Homo sapiens: one gene and its partner. Each later gene encodes a partner of the first gene's protein in a complex. Each region holds a gene or a part of one and is shown on either strand. Other genes may lie near its edges.

Region 1 (13,094 bases):
TTGATTATTAGGTCAACATTTTTATGAAACATACTTTTTTGAATTTTAATTAAGGCTAAAAAGTAGATTCAATGAATTAAAACTGTTTATTTGAAAAGTAATCAGGATGACTGAACGGATTAAAAGTATTACATTTTAGATTCAGATGGTCTTCTATTTCAAGCTCTTGTATTTGTTTTTCTCACAATGCTAAATTCTCATCTTCAGAGACTATCCCTGGGAAAAGACTACGCATGCACATCCAAAAAATAAAAAAGATAATCAGTCTATCAGTCCGATTCTCTGACGAGATCATCTCCCTGTACCCTGTATCAGTGGAGTGTATATCAGTTTAAACTATGACTGTATAAACACTCAACTGAGCACACTTCGGTATTTCATGTCTACCTTTAATTATCTGTCCCCGGCACCCAAAAAACAAATAATTGATATATTCCTTGGATTTACCATAGGTGCTCCATTTTCTTCAGCAATCCATAACTCTTTAAAATGCAGAAGAAAAAAAGGATTTATGTACATATATTAACAGGAGACCTTTTGAAAACACCATGCATTTTATACCCAGCTGGTTTCAAGCAAAGTTTTTGATACTACCACAGTAAACACCGCTTGATACTACCCAGTTAACACTATTCTTTCCTTACAGGTTATTAGTTATTTAAGAATATGACCCACACCTTCGTATACACAAAATAAGATGCACATCAGTGCTTAATAAATGTTTTCTGAAGAAAATGAATGAATGGATTAATTCCAGACTCCACAGAATTAGCATTGTTATCAATCCTCACTTTGGGAAATTTCCCCTGCATGACTGACCCCACCAAAAACCATATGTTCTCAAAATACTACAAGAAGCATAAATCCCACTTAAATATGTCTGTCTTTCCTTTTGCAATAAAAAAAATTAAAAACGTTGAAAAGCTGATCACACGTAATAAAACACAAAGAAATACAAATATGATGTAACATCAACAAGATGTTACCTTGAGGATAATATGTTAACTTCACCAAAGCTATAATCTGCAGAATTGTGTGGCAAATGTGACATTGAAAAAATGTCGGTGGGGGGGGGAATGAGTGATCTAAGTAGATTTTTGGTTGCTTGGCAGCAATGAAATAGCCAAATTATTAATTATGCCTAAGGTTTCTGGAAAGCGTACAAAAGTAAGCTCAACTACCCTCTGACTTAGTGTTTCTAACAGTTTACAAAATAATAGCTAACATTTATTTAGCACTTACTAAGCACCACTTACTATTATAACCACACTACATGCGCTACCTCATTCAATCCTTACCACGACTCTTGAAATATTATTCCCATTTTATAGACAGGGAAAACAGAGAAGTAATTTGCCAAAGGCCACATAGCTAGAGAGCCGTAAAGCTAAAATTGTAACACAGTCTACCCCCAGAGCCTGAACTCAATCTCCATGCTATAAACATTGCCCACTGGAACTATTTAATCCACTTATGTAATTTAATAGTACTTCAATTAAATTGACTATATATCTGTAATATCTCATAGATTCATTTTATTAAGGAACCGACATCCAATGGCTTGGCTCTGTTCCACTTAAAAATAACAGTATGCTGCGGGGTTCCCAGTAATGAACGTACAATGTATACGCCTAAAAAGTGAACTCTGGAACAACCTACCCTATATGTCCAGATTTTGATAACTAAAAAGAAAAGTAGTATCATCAATTCTAACATAGGAATAAGAACTATACAGGAAAACGCAGAGTAGCGGGGGAAAAACAAACAAAAAACGCTATCACTTGCATTTAATTTTTTTCTATTGCATTCAGTCTCTATGTGTTTATTCAACTATGGTCAAGGCACAAAGCCTGAATATTTTATTATGAACTAATTGCCTGCCAACTTGAGTCAACCTGGAGAAAGGGTGACAAATAGTTCATTTGCCTCTTGTTTCCTGCAATACCTCCCTAAAAAAATGGAAGCTGGGGGTGTGGCATGCTCTAAAGAAAATTATATTCTTCTCTTTTGGAGCCCAGTTTCCTACCAGACAACTTGGAGCTCTCCTGCAGTCTGCTAGTGGCCAGCTACCCTAAATGATTTAAGATTAAGTTCCCTCTGGTCATAAGGAAGCAGGGAGTCAGGAAAACTGCCTCTGTGATCTCCTAGTTAAGTCATTTAACTTTTCTCTACAAGCAAAGTTCACTTTTGGCTGTTGAGAGCATAAAATTGCCAGATTACTCTTTTAATTGTGAAAACACACAGGTGAGTGATGCCCATGAAGGATACTCCCTCAAGGGCTCTAACAATTATAATCATTGCAGTCAATTTTGTCTGGCAGGGAAATCCTGTTTGAAAATGTAATTTTTAAGGACAAAAACGCGACGTGGCGGCTGGCACACGAACGCTGAGAAAGTGAAAGAGGTTCTAAGGAAAGAGAAAAATACACCCTTTTGCCTAAGAATTACGCTCTGACGAGGAAAAACTATTCGGAAACTTCCAAACCCAGGTTGAAGGCGTGTTGAAGAGAGGGAGAGGGTCAGGGGCGTATTTTTCTTTTGCTCCGGACGAATCCAGCGACCCCTGTGGAGTACCCCCAAAGGTTTGGTGGTTTCCAAAACGAGTTCCCGGGACTCGGTCCCCTTCTCCTCACCTGAAGCACGAAGACTTCTCAGCTGGCCTCTAACTCGGGCCAGCGACTACCACTACGGTCCAGGAGAACCTGAATGCGCCGCGCGTCTAGGTCCTGCCCCTGGGGGAAACTTGTAAGGACGGACAGATTGGGTCCACGTCCGCCCAAGCAACTGAGGACCGTCTGCCTTTGGTTCCGCTGTTTCCAGCCTCAGCTGCCAAAGGGTCCTGTTGGCCTGGGGTTTCCAAACGACTTTCCTGGGGGAAATAAATAAGACCTCACTATTGCCATGTTTAAATTCACTTTTACTTTTTCCATTTTTATTTTTTGGTCTGAAACAACTTTAAATCTAACTTTTCATTTATCCTTATCTCTGCTCTTTGGTTTACAATGAAAGTATATTAAACTTGTATTCTGATAACACAGCAGTTATACTCCAATTTTTAACTAAAAGTGGGAATTTCTGTCTCATTAGCTCTATGTTTAGAAACTACAAGGAGCAAGGTGGCACAGTAGTGGGATTGATTGTAATGTCAAAATCTCTCTGCTTTAACCAAATGTACAATTCCTTTAAAATATGGACCTCATCATCTGAACACTGTTAAATGGCAAGTGTAACACTGAATTTGAAATCTAAAGTACTTGGATTAGGTGTGAAAACATCTGTGGCACTGATAAACCTTATACAATGTGGGTGTCAAAAAAGACAAACTTTAAAACACTTCTATTCTTCACCAATGATCCATGCAATTTTACAAGCAACTGGCAAAATATGCATATTTTCAGACTGGATTAAGATATTCTCTTAATGTCACTTAATCCAGAAAGTATTTCAGAGACAAATGACTCAATTCTGAATTGCCTTGCCTGTATAGTTCAAGACAAAATTTTGTGTTAGGAATTTTCTGAAAACTTCAGTTTTCTCTCAGAAAAATGAAAATAATATTACCTACGTCTCATGGGCTGTTTTGAGAATTAACTGAGAGACCATATGTAAAGGGACTAATAAAATACCTGGGAAGTCAAAACGTAAAGTACTATACAATGAGTTCTTACTGGAAATAAAGACATCTCGATTTTATTACCAAGACCAGCAGCACACAAATAACCATTTCATTAGCTAAGATACACGTAATACAGCCAAAAATAAGTAGTAGCTTTATTGATCCTCTGTCTAGTGATCAGAAACAATAATATAACATGCATCACATACAGTACACAATACTCCCGATTTTCCTCAACAGGAAATAAATGTCCATAATACAGAGGTTTCCATATATTGTTGCATTTATAATACTCTGCATGGGTATGAGTCATCCTATTTATAAAGTGATATTGAATCCACAAAATATAAGCTCCAAGAGGGAAGAGTTTGATTCCATTGCATACTATTGTGTCTAAAATCTAAATAATTGCTAAATGGATACAATAACAGTAATATATAGAACAATGAAATTCAGATACTGTTATTAAAAACACCCTGCCAAATAAAGTTATTTTAGCAAACGTATTTCCGATTTGTTCCAGGTATTTTCTCTCTTTTTAAAGTGTCTATGCTGAAATAATATCTATAACCTGGGACTTAAAAAAAATCACTTCACCTAATAATAAACCAAGCCAAAATCTTTAAATTTATTTTGTTATGCCATCATTAGACAGAGAATGTAAAAAGTAACCAAACAGAAAATAGTTTCACGGTCAGTACTAATGGGAGTAGGCCTGGAAGTCCTGAGAAATGAAGCCTGAGGCCTCAACCCAAAAGATCTCCAATTAATTCAGGTGAAGAGACCCCACATTTTGGCCCATATTAATGTGTCTGGAAGAAACAGGTCCCTACAACTTCTTGGAGGCCTCACTACTCAGAGAAAAGAAAATAAACACCCAGAACCCATTAATCCACACCCAAACTCCACCTCTCCCCCTAGCAGAGGGCATAGGCCAACCCCTGCCCGCAGCAGTCTCACTCACACCCTTAACTCTGGGACCGGGCCCTGCACCCGCCGGTCTACAGGAGGCCTGGTGATCTCAAGTGGCTGCCTCCCACCAGCAGCTCCGGCCTAGCCCCGCCCACTTTGGCCACCGCCTCCGGAAACGGCCGCGCGCGTTGCCACGGTGACGAGCAAGCAAAGAGCTTCCCCTGCGCAGCCAGGCTGAGCTTCTTGGCGCCAAGCTGCCGCGAGCCGTGACAGCGTCCGACGTGATGACATCACGCGAGCGGCAGCCAATGAAACGAAGCGCTGAGGAAAGTGGCTTGGGTTTGAATATTGTGGTTGAGTCTGAAGCGCTGGGAGGCGGACATTAAAGTGAAGTGGTTGCGGTAACCTGGCCTGGGCCTGAAGTGAGTGAGAGGCACATGAAGGTAAAACTGGACTCTGGGACGCTCCTTTTGGTGACTTGTATTATTGGGAACGGAGGGTCCTGCCGCTTCAGGTCTAGAAGACCAGGTGGGCTTCTTGACAAACACAGAAGCGTTGAGGGGTGGGGGATCAGGGTACCTGGGGAGAAAGTGAAAGGAAAAAGGGATTCGAGAACCTGCTAAGAGCACAGCTCTGCTTGACCGTAATCCTCGACTGCTCAGCTGGAAGGGCAGGGATCTCCTTAAGTCCTGAGAGGAAGTCTTAAGTTTTAAAGGGCATCTTGGCCCCTTTCCCAGACTGGCAGAGAACTTTAACTGCCCAGCACCTTGTAGTGTCAGCTTTTTTCCGGACTCCAAATTGGGAGTGTTTTGTTTCAGACTCACATATAAGCGTACCCAGGGGCTTACCTATCAAACGAGGAGCTTTTGTTCATCACTGCATAAAATTTTTGTCTGAAGAGCTTTAACTGTTAGTCTTGCACTGGTCAATCGGGAACCCCTCCTGAGCCCCAGTTGTAGGTAGCATCGAGATAAAAGCCGCTCTGACTGCCTAACGGGATTGCCGAGGATCAGATGAGGTACGGAAGAGATACTGTTTGGCAAATGCTCTGCAGATGAAATTAAACTGTAAACATTTAGAATCAGTCCTATAGTCTGTTCTTGGTTTCCGCAGGACTTTTTTTTTTTTTTAGGAGCTCATTAGTCACTCAGTTACAGAGAAGCCAAGACTGACTGCTGTTTATTATATGAGAAGAGAGTATTTGACCAGAATGAACTGATTTTGTGGTATAATATATAGTTTAGATTATGGATAATTAGGTAGAAATTTAGGCACTCTACAGATTTTAATTTTTAGTGTCATTCCACCACGTCTAGCCTCCTGTTTCGTTTTTGTAAGGTTTTTATAAACTTTGATGCTAGAGAATGTGATATCCAATGACTAGATAGTGCTTCTTATTAAGTTCATAGTTTGTAAGAACTATTTCAATAAACAAAGATTATCTACAAAGCACAATCACAAAGAAAAAAACTTAAAAGATTATCTGCCTTTAATAGTAGTAATTAATCTCCTTTTCTATTATTTATTCATTTATTTGAGACAGAGTCTCGCTCTGTGGTCCAAGCTGGAGTGCAGTGACGTGATCGCTGCTCACTGCAACCTCCACCTCCCAGGTTCAAGCAATTCTCGTGCCTCAGCCTCCCGAGTAGCTGGGATTACAGGCGTTTGCCACCACACTCGGCTAATTTTTGTATCTTTGGTAGAGACGGGGATTCACTGTGTTGGCCAGGCTGGTCTCGAACTCCTGACCTCAAGCCATCTGCCCGCCTCGGCCTCCTAAAGTGCAGGAATTACAGGTGTGAGGCAGGGCACCCAGCCCTTCCTCTTCTACTATTGAAAAGTATTTACAAATACATAATATTTTTATATTGAAAGTGCATCTTGTCCCATCATAGAAATACCCCAAATCAATTAAGAGACACGATAAAAATGATTTTTTTTTTTTTTTTTTTTTTGCTGACAACTGTGAAAACTAAGAGGAAAAAAAATAGCTCAGCTGTCAGTGCCGGCCTTCCCTCCAGTTGAACCTTTTATTCTTCCCTGATGGTTGTAAGTTGGTGGGAGTAGTGCCCCCAAGACTGATATTCCAAAAAGAGCTTTAAGATGGACTGTAGATGATAGTGTTGAGTATCGTTTTCAGTCCTATACAGTGTTTGTTGAATCTGAATCTAATTCAGGTTTGAGTTTGTATTTAATATATCATAACTGTCACTCTACTTCTGTATCATTGTTTGGAAGCATTCTCTTCTGATTCCAGTAGAACCTAGCTGTTAATAACATGGACTTTAGATTTGTACCCGTTAAGGAGTTTGTGTTTTATTCTTCTGGTGAGAAGTCATTGGAGACTTTAGAGCAGGTGAATGCCATGTGATGCATCACATGATCTGAATGCTTTTGATGAACGTATCAGTGAATACAATCAATGAATTAAATTTATTATAGTACTTTCATAAAATTAGGGGTGAATCTTTGACTGAATTGACTTATATTTGACATTTGGTTGCCCACTTGTTACGTCATCTTGGAAAAGTTACTTATCCTAAGGCTAAGTCTTTGTTTTTGTAAAATGGAAATACTACTACAACCTACCTTACGTGATTATTATAAGGATTGAATGCAATGACGAATGTCAAGTGTTTACTATAATGCATGAGACAGAGTGTACATACTCAAATGAAAAGCATTGTTGTTCATTATTAATAATTATCACCATATCAACCTAATCTAAGCATTGTTAAAGCATACTTATTGAGAATGGCCACTCTGTGATATCTGACAAGTACAGAGAAATCATAATCAGTTTTATTTTCACATTCAAGAGCTCCTGTGCCAGGCCCTGAGGTTTCTATCAAAAGTAAGGAAATATAAGAGAGTGGTACCAGAAGCTGAGTTTTGGGGGAAATAGGGAGATTTTGGTCAAAGGGTACACTTTAAGTTATAAGATAAATAAGTTCATGGCATTTAATGTACAGCATCAATGGTGATAGACGTATTAATTTAATTGTGGTAATCATTCCATTGTGTATAAGAATATGAGACCATCACATTGTACATCTTCGTTTTATACAATCTTTGCCAATTAAATGTTTTAAAATTTCTAAAAAAGTAAGCAATATATATATTTTTAACTTCTATAAGAAAATTTCTGAGGGTTATATATTTACATCAGGGAGAGTAGTGATTAAGTATTTGGCCTTTAGATTCAGTCAGTCTGAGTTCAAATCCCATGGCATGTGCTTCCTCAGTTGTGTGACTTTAGCCAGTTAATTTCTCTGTATTACACTTTCTGCCTTAATAAAATAGGAATGACAGTACAGGGTTTATGTCATAGGTTGTTATGACGATTTAGTAAGAGTATGTCAATTGTTAGTACATTTCTATTTGTGGGATATGAGCTCAATAGAAAATATAACTTATTGTTACTAAATTAAATGTTGCGATTAAGGTAAATTTTAATAGTGGTTTTGTTGTTGTTGTTTGTCTGTTTTGAAATAAAAATACCTAGACCTTGTTTAAAATTTAAATATTACAAAAGAATATGAAATGGAAAATAAACCTGTCTCTCACTCAGACCTTCATATTTCCCTTCTATAGGGAAAGTGGTATTATCAATTTCTTGTGTACCCTTCTGGGAATGACCATGCATATACATATATATCTTTTAAAAATACAAATGGTAACATGCTATAAGTCTATTAAAACTGTACTGGTTTATTCATTCATTTATTCAACAAGTATTTATTGGGTCCTAAATATTTGACAAGCAGTGTCCTAGGTGCTGGTGTGCAGATGAACTCCGTGCTCTCACAGTGCTTACATTCTAGAGGGAAAACAAGCAATAAATATGTAACCAGATAACATATACTTTCCAATTAGTGCTAAACTCAAGAAAGAAAAATAAACCTAGTAAGGGATTGGAGAAGCAAAGGCAGGGTGACACTATCTTAGATAGATTCTTTAGGGAAAGCCTCTGTAAAGTGGCATTTGAAGAGACCTGAATAATGAAGTGAGGGATTACAATTTGCAAATATCTGGAGGTAATGCCTGCCAGTAAGCAAAAATAAAAAAGCCAGGAGGCCAAAACAAGACTGAAGTGTTTTAGGAATGCTAAGAAAGTCATTGCAGCTGAAGCAGAATAATGAAATGGGGAGACAGCAGTAGAAGTCATTGTCAGAGAGGTAGGCAGGGCCATATGTGGAATTTATAGGCCATGGTAAGGAGTTTGTATTTTATTCTTATGATGAGAAGTCATTGGATAGTTTGGAGCAGGTAAATGACATGCAATACATATCATGATCTGAATGCTTTTGAAGAAAGTATCAGTGCATACAATCAATGAATTAAATAAAATTTATTGTACTTGCATATAATTAGGGGTGAATCTTTAATCTGGGATGAGCACTAGCTACATATGTTATAAGTTAAAAATTGACCTGTTCAACTTGGCTTATTACCATGCAAGTATTCAGGATAAATAGATTTTAATACCTCATTAAACATTGCAGAGGCATGAGCTGTTCTACATAAATGAATCTTCCAGAAAATTGAATATTAGCTTTGCTAAGTAATAAAGTATTTTAACCACACTTAATGATGAAAATAAAACATGATCTTGCCATTTCTTTAATTTTCTAAACAAGAAATTGGGAACATTATTTCTTTCTTATTTTTTTCTTTTTGATGCCTCAGGGTTCTCATTGTGATTGCCTGTTGTTGTCAACTATTGTACTCTAATATGTTGTTTCTCTTGGAGATATACATTTTCTTTTTCCTTCTACTCTAAGTGAGTAAATTGCTTTTTGGGGTCTGTGAGCATTTTTTATAGTTTATTAATTCATTCATTGGTATATTTGAAAATTTACTATATACTAGACTCTCTATGAGAGAATAGGGATATAAAGTAAAAGTCTATTAACTGTCATTTCTTATTCTCTTGTACCCTTTTCTAATCATGCATAATAATCATAAAATTTTGGAGCTAGAAAAAGACTTTCCGTATCATATAATCTAACCCTTTTGTTTTATACATTAGCAAGTAAAGCCCCTTTCCTTAGCCCCTTCATTCTTCTTTTTTGATACCCTACTCTCTCTAGACTAGACAAATATTCTTCTTCAGGTTTAGTATCTATTATATAAAATGCTTGGTACCAGAAGTTTTTTTGAATTTTGGAATTTTTTTTTTTTTTTAATTTTTGCATTGTGCTTACTGGTTGAGGATCTCTAATCTGAAAATCCAAAATACTCTAATGAGCATTTCCTTTGAGTGTCATGTTGGTGCTCACAAAGTTTTAGATTTTAGATTTTCAAATTTGGAATGCTCAACCTGATTATAATGAATAATCACGTTGGAAGTATTTGTCTTTCATGTTTTAGTTCCACCAATGAAATCCTACCAGTTTGCTCTTTTGATTCTGTTCAGTAAATACCACTTAGGGGTAGATAGGACAAAATTGATCAGAGGCTATAATACTATCTTCTGAACAGCTGTCTGAAAAGAATTTGTGAATCCACACATTCTTGCGCAGATAACGATATTTAGGCTTTTCTTTTGCTGCTTCATATTAAACATGGTTGAAGAATTTACTCTCTCTGTGCCTTATTCAGAATCAACTAAATGCTCATTTCTTTTAGTCAGCCATCCTAGAAAACAAAGAAGGCACCACATAATAATGTAGGAACGATCTCATTAATTCCTGCAGATGTAAGTATATTTGAACATAGATTAATTTTTACATTTGATGATTCTGTTGACCTTAGGCATTTTTATTAAGAAAATTCTATCCACATATTTGTTTTTAAAAGATAGGGAAATACATGATACTTTAAAAATTAACATCCATGTCTTTGTTAAAATATGCAACTAGTTGTGAAACAAAGTTATATTTGACATTATACTTAAATTCTATTGACTGAAAGAGTCAAACTCTGTAAAATATTTGAAGAGATTTATTCTGAGCCAAATATGAGTGACCATGGCCCATGACTCAGCCCTCAGGAGGTCCTGAGAGCATGTGCCCAAAGTGGTCAGTGTACAGCGTGGTTTTTTATATTTTAGAGAGGCATGAGACATCAATCAAATACATTTAAGAAATACGTTGGTTTGGTTCAGAAAGGCGGGACAACTCAAAGCGGGGGCTTCCAAGCTATAGGTAAATTTAAACATTTTCTGGTTGACAATTGGTTGAGTTTGTCTAAAGACCTGGGATTGATAGAAAGGAATGTTCAGGTTAAAAATAATTGTGGAGACCAAGTTTTATTTTGCAGAGGAAGCTCTCAGCAAATTTCAGAGAGAGAGAGCAGGTTGTAAAATGTTTCTCCGCAGAGCTAAAAGGGTGCCTGGCTTTTAGTTGATTATCTACTGGATCTGCAAAGAAAAGAGGAAAACAAAGAGGGAAGGGGATTCTCTATAGAACGTGGACTTTTCCAACAAGAAACTTTGCAGGGCAATTTCAAGGCTTGGCAAGTAAATCTATTTTGGGTGTTAAATATTTTTTCTTTGTCTCATAATGTTATGCCAGAGTCAATTGAAAAGCAAGTCACAATATACGGGGTCAAATAAAACGCATCTAATGAAAATCCATGATTTATAGGGCGTGACTCCCCAGACCCCTTAGATAGGAATTTGGGCAAAATAAAAAATCAGAGTTTAGTCCTCATTCCTTTAGGTAATTGTCCAAATTTCTCCCTGGAATGTTACTTAAATAATCCCCTCATTATAGTCTTATAAAGCACTGTTAACCTTTTCCCTATAATGGCACTTGTCACAGTTATACCTTTACATGTTTGTGTCAATATTTTATTAATATCTGTTTCCCTCACTACACTGTAAATAATAATAGCAAACACTTGTAGTTCATACTCTGTACAAAGTATTGTTCTAAGTGTGTAATCTTTACAACTTTATGAGATAGGTACTGTTGTTAGTCTTACTTTACAGATGGGGAAGCTGAGCCACAAGGAGGTTAAGTAACTTATCCACTATCACAGTCAGTACGTCATAGAGCTGAGATTTTAACCTAGGCTGCCTGGCTCCAACATGTAATAGTTGTCATGAATTAATTAACTAATTAATTAGGGAGGGATATCCTCCAGCCTTGAGATTCTAAGGTTTATTTTGAAATAATCACTTAGTATTTTATGTTTACTTTGTTAACAATTTCATTTATGTATATTTAATCTATCATTTAAAAATAGTATATCTGTTAAAATATTGTTGAATATTTCTAAAAGCTTTTAGAAATGTGTATAGGAGATAGTTTTTGTTATCACAAGGAATATGGGACACTGCTGGCCTTTAATAGACAGGGGAGAGAAATGCCAAACATCCTCTAATAGGGCAGTTCTAAATGCCCTATAACAGGGCAGTTCTAAGCAAGGAAGAATTGGCCTACCCAAAGTGCTAGTCATAAGCCCATTGAGAAAAACTCAAAAGATGAACTCAGTCTCTTTGGCAAGAAGAAGCAGGAGTGGGGCAGATAGGAAGAGAATTGGTATTTACTGAATACCTTAATACTTACCCCTTTTAGCCTTTGCAACAAACATTGAGGTATTATTATCTCTTTTATACAAATAGAAACCTGAGACTCATGGGGTTAAGTAACTTGTCCAAGGTCATAAAAGTGAGGTGTAGGTGCTTTGTGACACTTGGCTAGACGGAAGCTCAGGGATGAAAAACAAAGTAGTAATTCACCTGGGACCTGACTTAGAATCCAAATGACCATCCCTTCCTTTTCAGTATTCTATTTTTGGCCAAAGACAGAGTCCTAAAAAGGCAAAGATATGTCTAGCATCTACTGCTTTTAGATTCCTTTGAATTCTGTCCTTATTTGAATTCTGTCCGAAAGTATATGGCTAAGTGGTTTTGTGACATATTTCAGCTTGAATATTGCTATTTCTCCCATTTAAAAAAAAATACAAACAAAACATCTTGACACCACCCCCCCCCTTCACTCACACCATTTTTCTCCTCCCTTTGAAACAGTCCTTTCCATATACCTTGTCTATGGATCTTCTCCTTTCGGGTTTTTTCCCCACTACTGCCCCAAAATTGCTTTTCTCGATGGCCTCTGTGTTAGTAAATCCCATGGTTAATTCTCAGTAAGTACTTGACCTATTAGCAGTATTTAACACAATAGATCGCTGTTTCCTCCTTCATTTAGGATTTCCCGAAAGTTTTTAAAGCTTAATACTGCATTAAGACTGAGGACAGCCTTTATTTTCTTATTTTCTTAACTTCCACCTGCCCTGACATTTCCACCTGGATGTCTGTCAAAACTCTGAGACTTAAGCTATCCAAAACTGAACTGATCTGACCCTGCCTCCCACCACTTCCCGCCCTGCTGAAAAAAGCCCTGCTTCTTATTTCCATCTCAGTTGGTGACTACTTTATCCTTCTAATTCTCAAGCCAAAAACCTTGGAGTTATTCTTCAATCCTGTCTCTCTCTTTCACTCTACATCTACCTGTCAGTAAATTCTGTCACCTTTACCCTCAGAATACACCCATAATCTGACCACTTACCACCTCTGCTGCCACTACCCTATTCTGAGCTGACAGAGTTGTCTCTTG
Region 2 (6,860 bases), on another chromosome or scaffold:
TTTCTAATTTAAGTTGGAGCTATCTGTGCAGCAGTTTCTCTACAGTTGTGCATAAATGTTTTTACTATAAAATGAGCTAATGTATAAAATACTGCTGTATACCATAATAAAGATAGTAATACTTGATTTTAGTGGCTTTTGTTTTCTAAAATGAAAATAGCTTGAAATATTTATTATAAAAATAATAAAAGCTAGATATAAAAATCTAAAGAGAAAAAAAACCAGTCACCCTTATCTAATATTTTAGTGAGCAGTCTTCCACATGTTCATTTATAAAATTGGAATTATTTGATTTTGTGTATTGCTTTTCCCCCCTCAACATGTTGTGCACAATTTTGTACAGGCTTACATGGACATTTTTGATGACATGTTTTCTTGTATGGATATGCCACTACACATTTAACCAGTACTCGATGTCCATGTTGGTTATTTCTAATTTTTCACCATTATAAACAACCCTAAAGTTAATATCCTCACATATGTGTTTGCATACTCGTCTGTCACCTTAGGATACGTTTTCTAAAGGTAGAACTACAGCTTTGAACTCCTAGGCTCAAGTGATCTTCCCTCTCAGCCTCCCAAGTAGCTGAGACTACAGGGGGGTACCACCAAACCTGGCTAATATTTAAATTTTTTATAGAGATGGAGTCTCATTCTGTTGATCAAGCTGTTTGTGAACCCCTGGCCTCAAGCAATCGTCCTGCCTTGGCCTCCCAAAGTGCTGGGATTATAGGTGTGAGCCACCATGCCCGCCCTCTTCTAATTATCTGTCATGAGATGGATCTCCAGTCATTGCATTGAGGTTTATGTATTTAATATATTTAGTGTTTTCCCTATACCGGGGCATGGATTTTTGTCTTTCTTTGAGACAGGGTCTCTATCTGTTACCCAGGATGGAGTTCAGTGGCATGATCATAGCTCACTGCAGCCTTGAACTCCTGGGCTCTAATGACCCTCTTACTTCAGTCTCCCACTTAGCTAAGACTATAGGCATGTGCCGCCACACCTGGCCAATATTTCTTTAAAAATGTTTTTTGTAGAAAAATTAGCTGGGCATGGTGGCGGGCGCCTGTAGTCCCAGCTACTTGGGAGGCTGAGGCAGGTGAATGGCGTGAACCCGGGAGGCAGAATTTGCAGTGAGCTGAGATCATGCCACTGCACTCCAGCCTGGGTGACAGAGCAAGACTCTGTCTCAAAAAAAAAGATGTTTTTTGTAGAGCCAGGGATCTCACTATATTGTCCAGGCTGGTGAATTTTTATCCATTTTTTACTGCTGAATTCCCAGCACCTACAACAGTGCTGGCAAATAATAGATAACTAAATATTGAACAGGTGAACAAATTTTTTTTTTTTTTTTTTTTTTTTGAGACAGGGTCTCACTCTGCTACCCAGGCTGGTGTGCAGCGGCTTGATCACAGCTCACCGCAGCCTCCAACTGCCAGGTTCAGGTGATCTCCCATGTCAGCCTCCTGAGTAGCTGGGACTACAGGCATCCACCACCATGCCTGTCAAATTTTTGTATTTATTTATTTATTTTTTTGTAGATACGGGGTTTTGCCATGTTGCCCGGGCTGGTCTTGAACTCCTGGGCTCAATCGATCCCGCGACCTTGGCCTCCCAAAGTGCTAGGATTACAGGTGTGAGCCATTGCGCCTGGCCCAAATCATTTTAAATGTACTGGGAGATGCACTGATAGGAGGCCAAACTGGCAGCAGGACTGCCTGTTAGAAGTAATCAGATGATGGTGGCCTAAACTAATGGAGATAAAAAGATGTACACAGAGCTCTTTAGGAGGTGGACTAAGCAGTACTATCTGGTTTTAGGTTTAATGACAGAAGAGGCCTGGTGCAGTGGCTCACGCCTGTAATCACAGTACTTTGGGAGGCCAAGGCGGGCACATTACTTCAGGTCAGGAGTTCGAGACCAGTATGGCCAACATGGTGAACCGCCCCCCCAACCCCGTCTCTACCAAAAATACAAAAATTAGCTAGGTGTGGTGGTGCACACCTGTAATCCCAACTACTCAGGAGGTTGAGGTTGCAGTGAGCTGAGACCACGCCAGTGCACTCCAGCCTGGGCAACAAAGCAAGACTCCGTCTCAAAAAAAAAAAAAAAAAAAAAAAAGAATGACAGAACAGGCTGGGCTTGGTAATCCCAGCACTTTAGGGGGCTGAGGTGGGAGGATTGCTTGATAAGCCTGGGCAACATGGCAAGACTCCATCTCTACCAAAAAAAAAAAAAAAAGTGCAGGAAATCAGCCTGGTGGATGGTGGTGCCATTCACTGACATGTAGAACTGCAAATGTGGCAAATTTGGTATGGGAAGGAAGGGGCATGTGAAGAGGAAGATCATTTAGACTTGAACATACTGACACACAGCAGCTATTGAAACATTCAGGTGTGATTGTTGTAGCTGGATGTTGGATATTCCAGTCTGGAGCTCTGGAGAGCCATCTGGCCTGGAGACAAAGTGGGAGTGAGCAGCGTGTTTAATGATAGACCTGGAAATGGATGAGATCTCCCAGGGATAAGGTTTAGGAAGGACTTTTTAGGAGCATTAACACTTAAAGGATAGACGTTTAATTTTATTTATTCTTCAGAATAATTCTGTCGAGGTAAGTAGTATCATTCAGATTTTACTGTGGGAAACCTGAAGCTTAAAAAAGTTAACTTGTCAATAAGAAAGCTGGTTGGTCTGAGGTTCAAACCATATGTCTATGAGCTCCCAAAATCAATGCTCCTTTGTATGTCTCAAAGCACTGTACACAGCTGGTGCTTAATAGTTAAAATCTTCTATCACCCCTCCCCATTTGACTTGATAACTTAGGAAGGTAAAAGGCATGAGGCGGCTTTCACAGCTGTGGGACTTAGCTCTTGTTACCTTGGGCAGTTGTACAGATTCCTACAACCTGTATTTCAGGGTCGAAGTGAAAATATTTGTCTATCACTGAGTGTTTTGTATATTTATGGCTCTCGATCAAGAGATTATGTGTCAATGATAATAATCAGCTCTTGGCTACATTTCAATTTTTTTTCTTTTATTTTACTTTTAAGTTCTGGGATACATGTGCAGAACATGCAGGTTTGTTACATAGGTATACATGTGCCATGGTGGTTTGCTGCACCTATCAACCTGTCAGCTAAGTTTTATGCCCCGCATACATTAGGTATTTGTTCTAATGCTCGTGTTTTCTTTTTTTCTGAGGCAGTCTCGCTCACTGTAACCTCCACCTCTTGGGCTCAAGCCATCCTTCCGCCTCAGCCTCCATGGTAGCTGGGACTACAGTCGCGCGCCACCACGCCCGGCTAATTTTTTAAAAAAAATTATGTAGAGATGGGTCTTGCTATGTTGCCCACTCCAGTGGGCATCCCAAAATGTTACTGGCATCCCAAAATGTTAGGATTGCAGATATGAGCCACTGCGCCTGGCCTTTTTTAAAAAAAGTTTTATCCAGTGACAGGCTGGGCTATACACTTAATGTCTAAAGGTTTTTGCCTTTCAGTTCATATCAACGCGAGTAGAGTTAGCTAGCTATGTTTGTAAACAATATTCCGATATGCTTCGTTAAAGTAAGCCGATATTAAACATTTATATAAATCCATCCTCACAGGGTCAATCTGGAGATAAACTCACCGCTGCAGGGGGCGGGGAAGGAGGTGGGAACACGCTCATTGACAACTTCATTTCCATGAGAATGGTTGCTGTGGTGATTGCTGCGTCTTCCCATTGGTCATTGCCGAGCGTATTGCGGTTCTCCGGGAGGGTTATATTGGTTCCCATTCCACAGCGGCCGCAACGTGTCGAGAGCCGTAAGTAAAGTGTCGCAAAGCAGAAGGAAGGCGGGAGTCCCGACTGCAAACATTGAGGAAAGCCAGGCAGTAGAGGCCGCTATGGCGAACGTTCCGTGGGCAGAGGTCTGCGAGAAATTCCAGGCGGCGCTCGCTCTGTCGCGGGTGGAACTGCATAAAAATCCGGAGAAGGAACCATACAAGTCCAAATACAGCGCCCGGGCGCTACTGGAAGAGGTCAAGGCGCTGCTCGGCCCTGCGCCTGAGGACGAGGATGAGCGGCCTGAGGCCGAGGACGGCCCGGGTGCCGGTGACCACGCCCTGGGGCTGCCGGCTGAGGTGGTGGAGCCCGAGGGGCCCGTCGCCCAGCGAGCGGTGAGGCTGGCAGTCATCGAGTTCCACCTCGGGGTGAACCACATCGACACGGAGGAGCTGTCGGCGGGGGAGGAGCACCTGGTGAAATGCCTGCGGCTGCTGCGCAGGTACCGGCTCTCGCACGACTGCATCTCTCTCTGCATCCAGGCGCAGGTGAGAGCGAGCCCGGCCAGGCCGGCCCCTGTTGGCAAATGGCGAGGGATGGGGAGGAGCCCCTGCCAAGGCCAAGGGCAGACGTTGTAAGGCGCAATTCGTCCCCACGTTTTTGTAGCTCTGGACTGAGTCCCAAAGAGCGTCTGTGGTCTTCAAAAAAGCCAGTCTTATGGACTTATTGCCTTGTAACTAGATCTCCCACAGTCGGCCGTCCCCAGACTCCGTGTCCACCCTCGTCGCCCACACCAATATCGCTTGCTGCTGCTTCACTTAGACGTGGCGATGCATTGGTGTCCGAGACCCTCCTACATCGTCATGCGCTTTCCTCTCCACCAGTCCAACTCCTGTTCATTCTGTTAAGAAAATCCAAAGTAATTTAAATCTTAACGTCTCAAGGAAATGACAATGACCGGAGTACATTCTTTTTTGGTTTTGTCTTGTTTTTGTTTTTTTCTTAGAGATGGGGTCTCACTGTGTCGCCCAGGTTCGAGTTAAGTGGCACCATCATAGCTCATTGCAGCTTCCACCTCTTGGGCTCAAGCAGTCCTCCTGCCTCAGCCTTCATAGTAGCTGGAACCACAGGCGCATGCCACCATTCTTGGTAATTTTTTTAATTTTCTGTAGAGATGGGGGTCTCACTATATTGCCCAGGCTGGTCTTGAACTCCTGGACTCAAGTGATCCTTCTGGCTCACCTTCTCAAAGTGCTGGGATTACAGGCCTGAGCCGCTGTGCCTGGCTCGGAATACATTCTTAATTCAAAATAAAATGTCCAAAATCTGCAGCTTCCTTTCTTACCAAATTCATTTGTTTGCATCTTAGGGAATTCTTCCCCATTCTTGAAAACCTATCTCAAGAATCACTTCCTTTAGTATTAATAACTTTCTTGGGACCATTTTGGGCCAAACTGATCTCTCCCTCCTACCTTTGAATTCTTATAATACTTTTTGTTTCCCATTTATATGGTACTTGGTTTCTTAAATAAATCTGGGCAGGGCACAGTGGCTCCCATCTGTAATCCCAGCATTTTGGGAGGCCGAAGTGGGAGGATGGCGTGAGGTCAGTAGTTCAAGACCAGCCTGGGCAACAAAGTGAGACTCTGTCTCTTAAACAAAACAAAACAAAACAAAAAACCCACAAAACTAGCCAGGCATGGTGGTACACGCCTGTAGTCTTAGCTACTGGGGAGGCTAGGTTGAGCTGGGAGGATCACTTGAGCCCCTGGAGGAGCCATGATCATGCCACTGCAACTGCAGTCTGGGTGACAGAGCAAGACCTTTTCTCAACAACAACAAAATCCACATCAATATTCTAAAGTAATATTGGTCAACACCTGTGAAAAGAAGGGGTGAAAAAAAGAAAAATACTTTAAAAAGTTAAAATAATATTGGGACAGGTGAACATGGATGTTTATCACAGCAGTGTTGATTATTAAAGAAGGAAAATCGCAGGGCTGAGGCAGGAGGATCGCTTGAGCCCAGGAGGTCAAGGCTGCAGTGAGCCAAGATTGTATCACTGCACTCCAGCCTGTGCAACAGAGTGAGACCCTGTCTCAAAAAGCAAAGAAAAGGAAAACAATATAAATGTCAGTAGGAATATGATTAAATTCCGTTACATCCAAACAGAAGAACAGTACACAATTATTAAAAATAATAATTTATATTAACAAAAATTGGCAATATGAAGAGGGAGGAAGAAGACTATAAGCCATATTTAGAATTATGTAGAAAAGGCCGGATGTGGTGGCTCACACTTGTAATCCTAGCACTTTGGGAGGCTGGGATGAGATGATCACTCGAGCTTAGGAGTTCAAGACCAACCTGGGCACATAGTGACACCTCATCGCTACTAAAAATAAGAAAAAAAAATTATTCCAGGCATGGCTGCTTTGCTAGGCAGTATGTTCTTTGGGCAGCCATCGGGGCCCCAACCACCACCGGGGCTCTGGGGCCAGGCTTCCTTTACTTACCAGCAGCTCCAGGGCCTCTGAGACCTTCTAACAGTACTTTGGTGGATGACATGGAGTCATCTTTCCAGACTTGCTTTGCCTCTCCGTTAAGTCAGGACTATGTCAATGGCAGCAATCAGGAAGAAATTGGAACTGGTGTTGATCGGTGTATACACAAGTTTCTGGATATTGCAAGACAGAATATTTCTTTCCTACAAAAAAGATTGCAATTATCTGTCCAGAAACCAGAGCAAGTTATCAATGAGGATGTCGATGTCTCCGAACTAAGAAATGAATAACATTGGAGACATGCACTGGTCCAGAAGCACTTGACAAAGCTAAGGCATTGGCAGCAAGTGCTGGAGGTCATCACGTGCAGTACAAAAAGCTAGCTGACATCCATCAAGGCTCCTTGGTCTACCTTGAGCAGGCATTCAATATCCCTGCACTTCTGAAGTGCACCTGAGCAAAAGGGTAAAGGCTGTGGGCCTGAGAGTGGGCTGGTGTGGGAGAGCCCCATGCAGATGGTTTGCCACACATCCCTTCTTGTAGACTTGGCATTTTGGAAGAACTCTTTGACAGAGAATGAGTTGATTT

The links.
Region 2: the proteins of KIF18A (region 1) and KIFBP are in contact, whole or in part, in a cryo-EM structure (PDB 7RSI), measured with the Homo sapiens proteins. Residues at the interface, in NP_112494.3 of Homo sapiens: Glu181, Thr183, Gln184, Lys185, Gly186, Arg274, Phe275, Val276, Glu277, Gly278, Thr279, Asn280, Ile281, Arg283, Ser284, Leu285, Leu288, Gly289, Val291, Ile292, Arg314, Lys317, Asp318, Gly322, Asn323; in NP_056449.1 of Homo sapiens: Ser150, Glu151, Tyr212, Tyr213, Gln216, His220, Gln238, Ile251, Asn252, Thr255, Gln258, Asn262, Gly414, Tyr415, Val459, Asp460, Leu461, Asn462, Pro463, Gln464, Leu467.

What each region holds. Positions count from the first base shown.
Region 1 is NC_000011.10:28,099,940-28,113,033, reverse strand, and holds the start of KIF18A (kinesin-like protein KIF18A), read left to right. Parts: upstream 1-4,877; 5' UTR 4,878-4,970; exon of another isoform or gene 4,971-5,545; intron 5,546-13,094.
Region 2 is NC_000010.11:68,984,943-68,991,802, forward strand, and holds the start of KIFBP (KIF-binding protein), read left to right. Parts: upstream 1-3,860; 5' UTR 3,861-3,890; coding exon 3,891-4,316; intron 4,317-6,185; exon of another isoform or gene 6,186-6,860. UniProt on the Homo sapiens protein: Activator of KIF1B plus-end-directed microtubule motor activity. Required for organization of axonal microtubules, and axonal outgrowth and maintenance during peripheral and central nervous system development.